Regions from separate parts of the Homo sapiens genome. Here region 1 is linked to region 2. The links come from fine-mapping of genetic effects on gene expression. A gene starts in region 2. The other region holds a variant in brackets. All regions are shown on one strand. Distances are from middle to middle.

The links. PIP is the estimated chance that this variant, and not a neighbour inherited with it, causes the effect.
Region 1: its variant is fine-mapped to the expression of DUOXA1 in atrial appendage (GTEx, PIP 0.93).

What each region holds. Positions count from the first base shown.
Region 1 is chr15:45,149,181-45,153,180 of GRCh38, forward strand. DUOX1 (dual oxidase 1) reads left to right here. Exons shown (of 34, transcript NM_175940.3): 22 at 1,452-1,521; 23 at 1,943-2,068; 24 at 2,694-2,872; 25 at 3,106-3,336. It overlaps LOC124903480 (a long non-coding RNA gene), which reads right to left and starts at 2,700. Exons shown (of 2, transcript XR_007064607.1): 1 at 2,310-2,700. The variant C/T (reference allele first, on the strand shown) is at 2,386.
Region 2 is chr15:45,127,402-45,131,914 of GRCh38, forward strand. It overlaps DUOXA1 (dual oxidase maturation factor 1), which reads right to left and starts at 2,478. Exons shown (of 9, transcript NM_001276266.2): 1 at 2,451-2,478; 2 at 2,059-2,214; 3 at 1,617-1,733. It overlaps DUOX1 (dual oxidase 1), which reads left to right and starts at 2,593. Exons shown (of 34, transcript NM_175940.3): 1 at 2,593-2,697.

The DNA of each region.
Region 1 (4,000 bases), 22 kb after region 2:
CCAGAATTATGAGAAGGGGTAGGCTGAGCAGCCTCCACAGGGAAGAGGGGCAAGTTAGATAAGACACAGATGAGCCTCTGGTCAGGGCTTCCCCCTGGGGGTAAGGAGAGCTGGAAGAGAAGGAACCCAGCACTCCTGATTCTGCAGCTTTTTACCTTTCCCAGGCAGCCAGGGCAGCAGGCACCTGAGCCTAAGGGCAGGGGCAACGAAGGTGCATGGAAGGGAGCCCACACCACAGAGTCCCAGGGACATCCAACACCTGGGGTGGAGGGTAAAACCAGGCTTGGGGATTGAGGAAGATTAGCACTGAGTATTGTTTTCTTTTAATTGTTATTGACTCCAGATTTTTTTTATAAAGATTTTAAAACTAAAGAAAAGGAACAAAAGGCCAGGTGCAATAGCTCATGCCTGTAATCCCAGCACTTTGGGAGGCCAAAGTGGGAGGATCACTTGAGGTCAGGAGTTTGAGACCAGCCTGGCCAACATAGAGAAACCCCATCTCTATTTAAAAAAGTACAAAAATTACCCAGGTGTGGTGGCACATGCCTGTAGTCCCAAGTACTCCAGAGGCTGAGGCACAAGAATCGCTTGAACCAGGAGGCGGAGGCTGTAGTGAGCCAAGATTGTGCCACTGCACTCCAACCTGGGCGACAGAGACTCTGTCTCAAAAAAAGAGATGTTCCTTCACTTTTCACCTAGATATGCTATTTGTTACCATTTTACCACATTTGCTGTTTGTGGAACATTTGAGAGTACAGGCATTAATACTTTGTTTTAAACATTCTGATTTAATTTTAATATAGTTCAGCTTATCTTCTTTTGACCTCAACTATAGACCAGGGTCATCTTCAGGCTTGGTTCAGCACTTGGAAGAAACCCAGAGATTCCCAGGACTCCTGTAAGAATTTGGCTTTGCAGCTTAGTCCTGCCCTGCCTTCAGTGCTCAGCCTAGACAGGAACAATGGGGTGGCTCCTGGGAGAGCTTTTCTCCTGCATATTTTATTATGAACATTTTCAAACACAGAAAAGTAAAAAGAACTGTAGCGTGATCTCCCATATACCTACCACCTAGATTCTACATTTAGCTCTTGGAGGTTTTAAGCTAGAGGATCTTAAGCCAAATTTTTATGGCAGAGCAGGCTCAGAAGGCAGGTTATATACAGTTCCCGAAATCTACCCCATAGTCCCAGAAGTGGGACTGATGATGGACACACTTTAGGGAAGCCTGCCTGGCCAACTTTCTTTCAGGCCTTTTCCCTGCCCACCTATGGCTGGGTCCAGCTCCCATTGGGGACAAGGGCTGAGGTTGGAGCACCCGAAAGCAGGGCCTCCATTGGTCTGGGACTGTCTACTGTGCCTGAGCATGGGATGGTAGGAGTGCTGTGCGTTTGAGCCAGGTCTTCCTGGGCTCTGGACCCTGAGCTGCTCCCTAGCCTGGCTCTGCTTTGCAGGGGTGGAGGTGCCTGAAGTCATCAAGGACCTCTGCCGGCGAGCCTCCTACATCAGCCAGGATATGATCTGGTGAGCACCCATCTGGGAATGTCGGGGGGAGGAGTTGGGGAGTTGCCATTTCTCTCCCCTGAATGGCTGGGATCAGGGCCACCGCTAGCCCATGCAGCACCTTCAAACAAATTAGAAAAGGACACCCCTTTCTCTAGGCAGACACAGCCCTGTGCCAGGGCAAGCAGAAAGCCTGCTGGATTTCCGCTCTCACTTACGGCCTGGCCCAGATGCCCTTGTGAAGGGTAAAGGCATATGCAGCAGCCTTAGCGAGGACCCCCAAGATCAGACTCTGTCTATAGGTGACTGTGGGAATCCTGCTGTCCCCTTGCTGACAGCTCTGATCCTTCCTCAGCAGAATGGGTTTGGAGGCAGACCAGGATAGCAGAGGAACGAGTGGTTGAGATGGCCAGCATCCTATCTCTTACCATTCTTGTCTTAGTCCCTCTCCCAGAGTGAGTGCCCGCTGTTCCCGCAGCGACATTGAGACTGAGTTGACACCTCAGAGACTGCAGTGCCCCATGGACACAGACCCTCCCCAGGAGATTCGGCGGAGGTTTGGCAAGAAGTATGTCTGCTCTTCCCCTTAAGCCCAGGCAGTTCATCCATTCCTTCAGCTTATAAACATCTTTTCCTTGGTGCCAGGCACTGTGCTAAACATTGTGGGTACAGGCAGGGTGAATAGTCCTTGCCCAAGAACATCACAATCTAAGAAGAGAATCTGGTACACTGATAATTTCAATGTCCCACTGATGACTGTTCTAATAGTGGTAAGAGCGAAGGGCTTTGGAACTCAAGGAAGCACTCACCTCTGCCAGGGAGGTCAGAGATGCCTTCATGGAAGAGGTGTCCTTTGAGTCTCTAGTAAAGGCTGAATATGGGCGC[C/T]GGGTGGGAGTTGGGAGCTACAGACTGGAAGGAGAGGGACTGAGTGTGAATGAACACAGGTAGATGGAGTACATCCCCTGGGAAGAAATGACCACTCCAAGCCATCCCTCCACTGCCAGCTTGCTTATGCAGTGCAATATAGCCTGATGCGGTGAGGTCTGAACCCTTCTTCCACAAGGGTAACTAGGTTTCTTTCTCGGAAGCAGTGGGCTTCCCTCACTTCTGGGCGGCTCACCTCCGTGAAGTGGGGCCCCACTAGCGTTGGGTCCCATGGTGGGTGCCAAAGGCTAAGGCTTCCTGTCTCCCAGGGTAACGTCATTCCAGCCCTTGCTGTTCACTGAGGCGCACCGAGAGAAGTTCCAACGCAGCTGTCTCCACCAGACGGTGCAACAGTTCAAGCGCTTCATTGAGAACTACCGGCGCCACATCGGCTGCGTGGCCGTGTTCTACGCCATCGCTGGGGGGCTTTTCCTGGAGAGGGCCTACTGTGAGTGACTTTACTTACCACGAGCCCTGTCCCTAGGCTTGCAATGAGTGATCGCCCTGGGGGTGGGGCCTGCGATAAGTGCCAGCCCTGGGTAGGGTAAGTGGAGCCTGTCTGAGTGAAGACTGTGCGGGGGAGGCCTGTTGTGAGTGGCAGCCGGCCAGGGCCTACCGCCCCTAACCAGCTCTCTGTCCTCTGCACTGACCCTCGCTTGCCTGCCTGGGCCCCCTCCACAGACTACGCCTTTGCCGCACATCACACGGGCATCACAGACACCACCCGCGTGGGAATCATCCTGTCGCGGGGCACAGCAGCCAGCATCTCTTTCATGTTCTCCTACATCTTGCTCACCATGTGCCGCAACCTCATCACCTTCCTGCGAGAAACCTTCCTCAACCGCTACGTGCCCTTCGACGCCGCCGTGGACTTCCATCGCCTCATTGCCTCCACCGCCATCGTCCTCACAGGCAGGGCCTGGGTGTCCCTGGGAGGCTCTCCAGGGCCTCCCGCCCCCGCTGACTTCCCCTCGTATGAGAGCCCCCCTCTCTGCTGGCACTTACCTTTAATGTCCTTCTCCATCAGGATGGAGTTGGCCTGGGCCAGGGTGTGAAGTAAGCCCGGGAGCCTGTCGCTGGTCACTTCCAAGTGCCTCTTCCCGCACTTTCCAGGGCGCCTCACCAGCCTCAGCTGACAAGTTACTAACACCCCAGAATGAGTGTGCATAATGTGTCAATTCTCCCAATTTTTATGTTTTAAAGCATGACTCTGAGAGAAAGCAAAGGAGTGAACTTCTAATGCTGTAATTTCAGACTCACATGGTTGCGCACATGGATGGTGTGTCTGTGGGGTGTTGGGTAGGGCCAGGTGATTGTTTAGAGGTCAGAAGTCCAGGCCGGCGCGGCGGCTTATGCCCCTAATCCCAGCACTTTGGGAAGCTGAGGCGGGCGGATCACTTGAGGTCAGGAGTTCGAGACCAGCCTGGCCAACATGGTGAAACCCCGTCTCTACTAAAAATACAAAAATCAGCTGGGTGTGGTGGCACATGCCGGTAATCCCAGCTACTCAGGAGGCTGAGGCAGGAGAATTGCTTGAACCTGGGAGGCAGAGGTTGCAGTGAGCCGAGATCGCACC
Region 2 (4,513 bases):
TAAGTATAGAACAATGTTAACTTATTTCCAGTTCTCCAAAATGTCATATTTATTAAAGATGACAGAAGCAAAAAAACAGTTGGTAAATGAAATTTGCCTTTCTTAATTTCTTCTTGTTCCATTTCATAACTTAGGTCTTCCTTTATTTGCATTGCCTAATTTAAAGTTAATTTTTCATGACCCTGACCCTAATTTTGTTTTCATTATTAAGCTAACAGGGCTCATGCATGAAGAGGTGGGACAGAAATGAGAAGACCCCACACCCCACAGTCCTGCTTTTCCTACAACGCTTGTGTTTCCCTGGGGAACATCTTTCTTTCTGGCTCGTCAAGTAACATCTGACAGTAAAATTAGTTTTAATGTGAGAAAATCTCATATCAATATTAACTTGACCCACTCCTCCCCTACCTCATCACCATGACTAGGATGTATGCACAGTGTACATTGATATAAATAAGCAGACACAAGATACAGTCAAATATGCACCTACAAATTTAGATAAACAGAGACACAGACGCAAGAACCACCCAGACTGTCATTCTCAGTAATATAGACTTCATCCCAGGCCCCTGTGACAAAATTGGGATGCTTTCTCATGGGGTGGGGGGAGTTTCCCACACTTTAGGGTCCTCCTTTCTCACCTGGCCTAGGGAGGAGGAGGCAGCATCCTCCCTTTCCAGGCTCCCTTATGTACTGAAGACTTTCCTTATGCTCAATCTTATTATAGACACAATTACCCAATCCTTACCTACCACAGGTTGAAGTGGAGTTCCTATGTGTGTATGAGAGGTGGGTAAAACATAAAGTTACAATCTTTAAGAAAATTCAGCCTAGAACAACCTCCAGCCTTCTTCATTCAAAGTTATGTGCTAACGTCTTGTGGCCTCTCTTGTAGCCTGACAGGACTTTTTTCCTGAAGTCTTCCCCCTTGCCCACCTCCCCCATCTGCTGGAAACTATAGAGTAAGGGCCACTAATTCTCCACAAGTGGGGAGTGGGTGACATGGCTGGAGTTGCCAAGACCTCTGATTGGTAATGCACAGCTACTGCAATGTGATGCTTTTTTCTCTGATTGGGGTAGACCCCATTAAACGTTTACAGCTGTGGCTAGCTAAGGGGACCCTGTCAGGAACTCCTGTGCTAGACTTTCCTCTTCAAGGAAGGGGTCTGTGTGTACGTGTGTATCTGTGTATGAATGTATATGTGTGTTGTTGCACAAAAATAGGAGTTAAGTGGAGAAATTGAACAAGATCTGAAAAGTGGATTGGAGGCAGGATTCCCCAGTAAGGGCTGATGTGGATAAGGAATTCAAGGGTGCAGAATCATGCAAGCCAAAGTATCCAGACTCGAGTTAAACTGGGATGGCGATTCGATGTCTATAAACCTTGTGGCATTTATGGCCTTAAGAGGTTTTCCTTGCCTCCCCAGTTTCTTACCAAACTCTCTCTTTGAAGAACTCCCACTTGATCCGAACTTGGTCTGGATGAAAGCAGGAAGTGCAGCCCTAGGTGCCAGGGCGGGAGCAAGCACTTCAAGACCCCCTCCAAAATCACCTGGACCGCACAGATCTAAGCAGCCGCATCCCCCACCACCCACACCCGGACCACTATTCCCTACCTTCCCCTCTTCCAAACAGTGCGTGTGTGGCAGCCTGCGCCTCTCGCCTTCCCCCGTGGAACCTCACACGAAGCGCCCCCGGGGGTGTGATTAAAGAGGGAACCAGGTCCCGACGTTCTGTGAACAAACGCGCGCCCTTACTCTCAGTGGGGCTCCCGTCCGACCCCCACTCCTCTCCTAACTCACGTAAGGACCCGGCTGTGACCGGACAAACCGGGTCTGGGGTGCTTCCAGTCACTCTTCAAGTCACTCCCAAACTTCTCAGACTGCACCCGAGGCTCTGCGGCGCCGCCTCCCTCTCCCGGCCTGGTACAGAGAAGGGCTGGGTGCGCCAGGACAGTAGTACCGGGGTCTGCCAGCTCCGCAGAGGTCCCTCCAATCCCCCCTCCTCCTCTGCGCCCCCCCACCCATGCCCAGCAATCCCAGCAGCTCCAGCGCAAACCTAGCGACGCAGTTCCGGGTCTGGCGGGGCGCGGGCGCGGCTCGCAGGGCGGTGGGACCCCCAAGACCTCACGAGGATCCCCGGAGGGAGACGTGACTCCGGGGTCTTAGAGGGGTTTAGGTCGGATGGGTGACTTGCTTTGACGCCTGGCCTGGTCTGTGGGTGGCAGGTGATCGATGGCCTTGGACTTGGAGCCCAGACCCGACGGTGTCGAGAGGATCTGAGGAGAGTCTCCCCTCCCCATACCCTCTCCGCCTCCCACCCTCTCCCCAGCCCCATGGGACTTGTGAAGGCGGACTTGCTTTTTTCGCCGTCCACACAACCGCACTAGCCGGGCCTTCGGCACCGACGGAACATCTCTACCTGCGCCCCGGGAGCCCTCGCCGTCTCACCTCGCGCGCTGCCGTCCGCTGGAAGCACCTCCGCGCCTCCCCAGGCGCCAGACTCCATCCCGCCCCACTGCGCCCCGCCCCGTGGCTGAGCCGAGCCGGGCCGTGCCTTCCCCTCCTCACCCCCAGCCCCGCCCGTCCCGGCGCAGAGCTGCAGAGGCACCGGACGAGAGAGGGCTCCGCGGGCCCAGCTGGCAGCCAGGCCGGAGACAAGTTGCAGTCCCGGGCTCTGGTGACGCCGTGGCCGCAGGTCAGATTTGGGAGGGCTTTTCCCGGCCCGCGGGCCTGGGCGCTCCGGGGGAGGGAGCTCCAAGGGCAGGGTGGCGGGGGAGCCGCAGCTCCTCCACGTTATGGAAGAAAGGGGAATGCTAGCCCCCTGCGCCTCCGATCTTATCCTAAGGCTAAAACCGGTCCTGTTAGGGCCTGTCCTCTGCCCAATCAAGGTTTTGAGAGACTGGGTTCTTTGGGACCTGGGAATGTTGGGTGGCCTAGTTTGCCTGGGCCTGCGGGTTCTTCTCCTGGCACCAGCACAACATACCAGGGAGGGAGCTTTGGGCTTTAGGATCCAAGCTTTCCCCCTCAGCCCTCCCTTAGGACCAAGATGGCCTTGACCCATCTTCCTCCCACCTCAGGGCCACCAGGGTCACCACTCTAGGGCTTCAGGCTGGAAAAGCAGCCATGTGGGGCAAGAACAGGCAGGCCTGTGTTCTCTCTCTGGTTCTGCCGCTGGCTCTGCCTGGGGCTTCACTGCCCTGTCCTGGGCAACCTTCCTGTCAAGGTTGTTGAGAAGTTACTGCCCCATCGTTGTGTAAATCATTAAGGGCAACCCACCCACAAGGAGTGGTTATTAAGCATGTCCACCTTCCTCTTCAGGTCATCCCCACACAGCCTGGTCTGAAAGCCCATTTCATGCCCTTAGGGGCTGAGTGGTACATTAGCGTTGAGGCCCAGGATCCTGAAGACATGGTGGTGGCGGGGGAGGGGAATGACATCTTGGGATCAGGGAAGGACCGCTGTGGCTACTTCCGTATATCCAGCTTTACAGCTTCAACCATCCAGAGCCCAGCTCTTCATGCACTATTAAAGGCCAGCACCTGGACAGACTCTGTGAAATGCAGCAGGTGATACTGAGCTTTCCAGTTATGGCAGGGCCTAGGTTTTTTCATTTAATAGGAGATGGAGTAGGGATGAGGTCACTCCCTGGGTTCTCTCCTCTAGACAACCCATCCAGGAACCCTGATGTTTGGCTGGGGATGAGGCTTTCCCTGAGCTCCTTTCTTCCTCTATCCTAACCCCAATCTCCAGGTTGCCTTCAGGAGGTCTTCGCCGGCTTTAGGTACTCCTTACTCGCACTCAGGAGTCCCAGCCTGAGTCCTCTGCTGCCTCTGTTTCCCTGTTGACTCTGGGTGGAGAGAGAGAGAGCAGGAAGCTTGCACTAAATACATGAGCACCTGGTAGTGCATCCCTTCTGGATCCAACCAGAGGAGACAAGCTCCCGCCTACCCTCTCTATATCACATTTGCCCAACACCTGTCACTTGCTTTGAATTAAACCTCCTTCTCACATTTGATTCTGGCAACCATGCTTAGAAGTAAACAGTTCAGGCATATTTGCTCCCATAGCTGGAAGAGGAAAACAAGGATCAGATTGGAGAAGTGATTTATCTAAGATCCCACAGTGGACTGGGAGCAGCACTGAGACCTCAGCCTAGTCTCCTGATCCCCAAGCAGGGCCCTGCCTAAGGAACACACTCTGCAGAGTGCTGGGCCAAAGCAGGGTTTTCCAACTAATCTTAGAAGGTAAAGTCCATGAAGGTATGTACCAGGGATTTCTGTTTGTTTTGTTCGTCACTTAATCTCCAGTGTCTATGTCAGTGGCTGGTATGTAGTGGTGCTCATGAAGTATTTGCCGAATCAATTAAAGAATTTTCGGAAAGAGTGAGTCTCTTGAACTTTGCTACCTACTGTGACCTTGGCCCAGCCCCAGGCCTTGATTCACAGAGGCCTGCAGAGTCTTTCACCTGATTCTTCTGAGTAGCTGGGGCTCATTCTTTGCCTGTCTTTTTC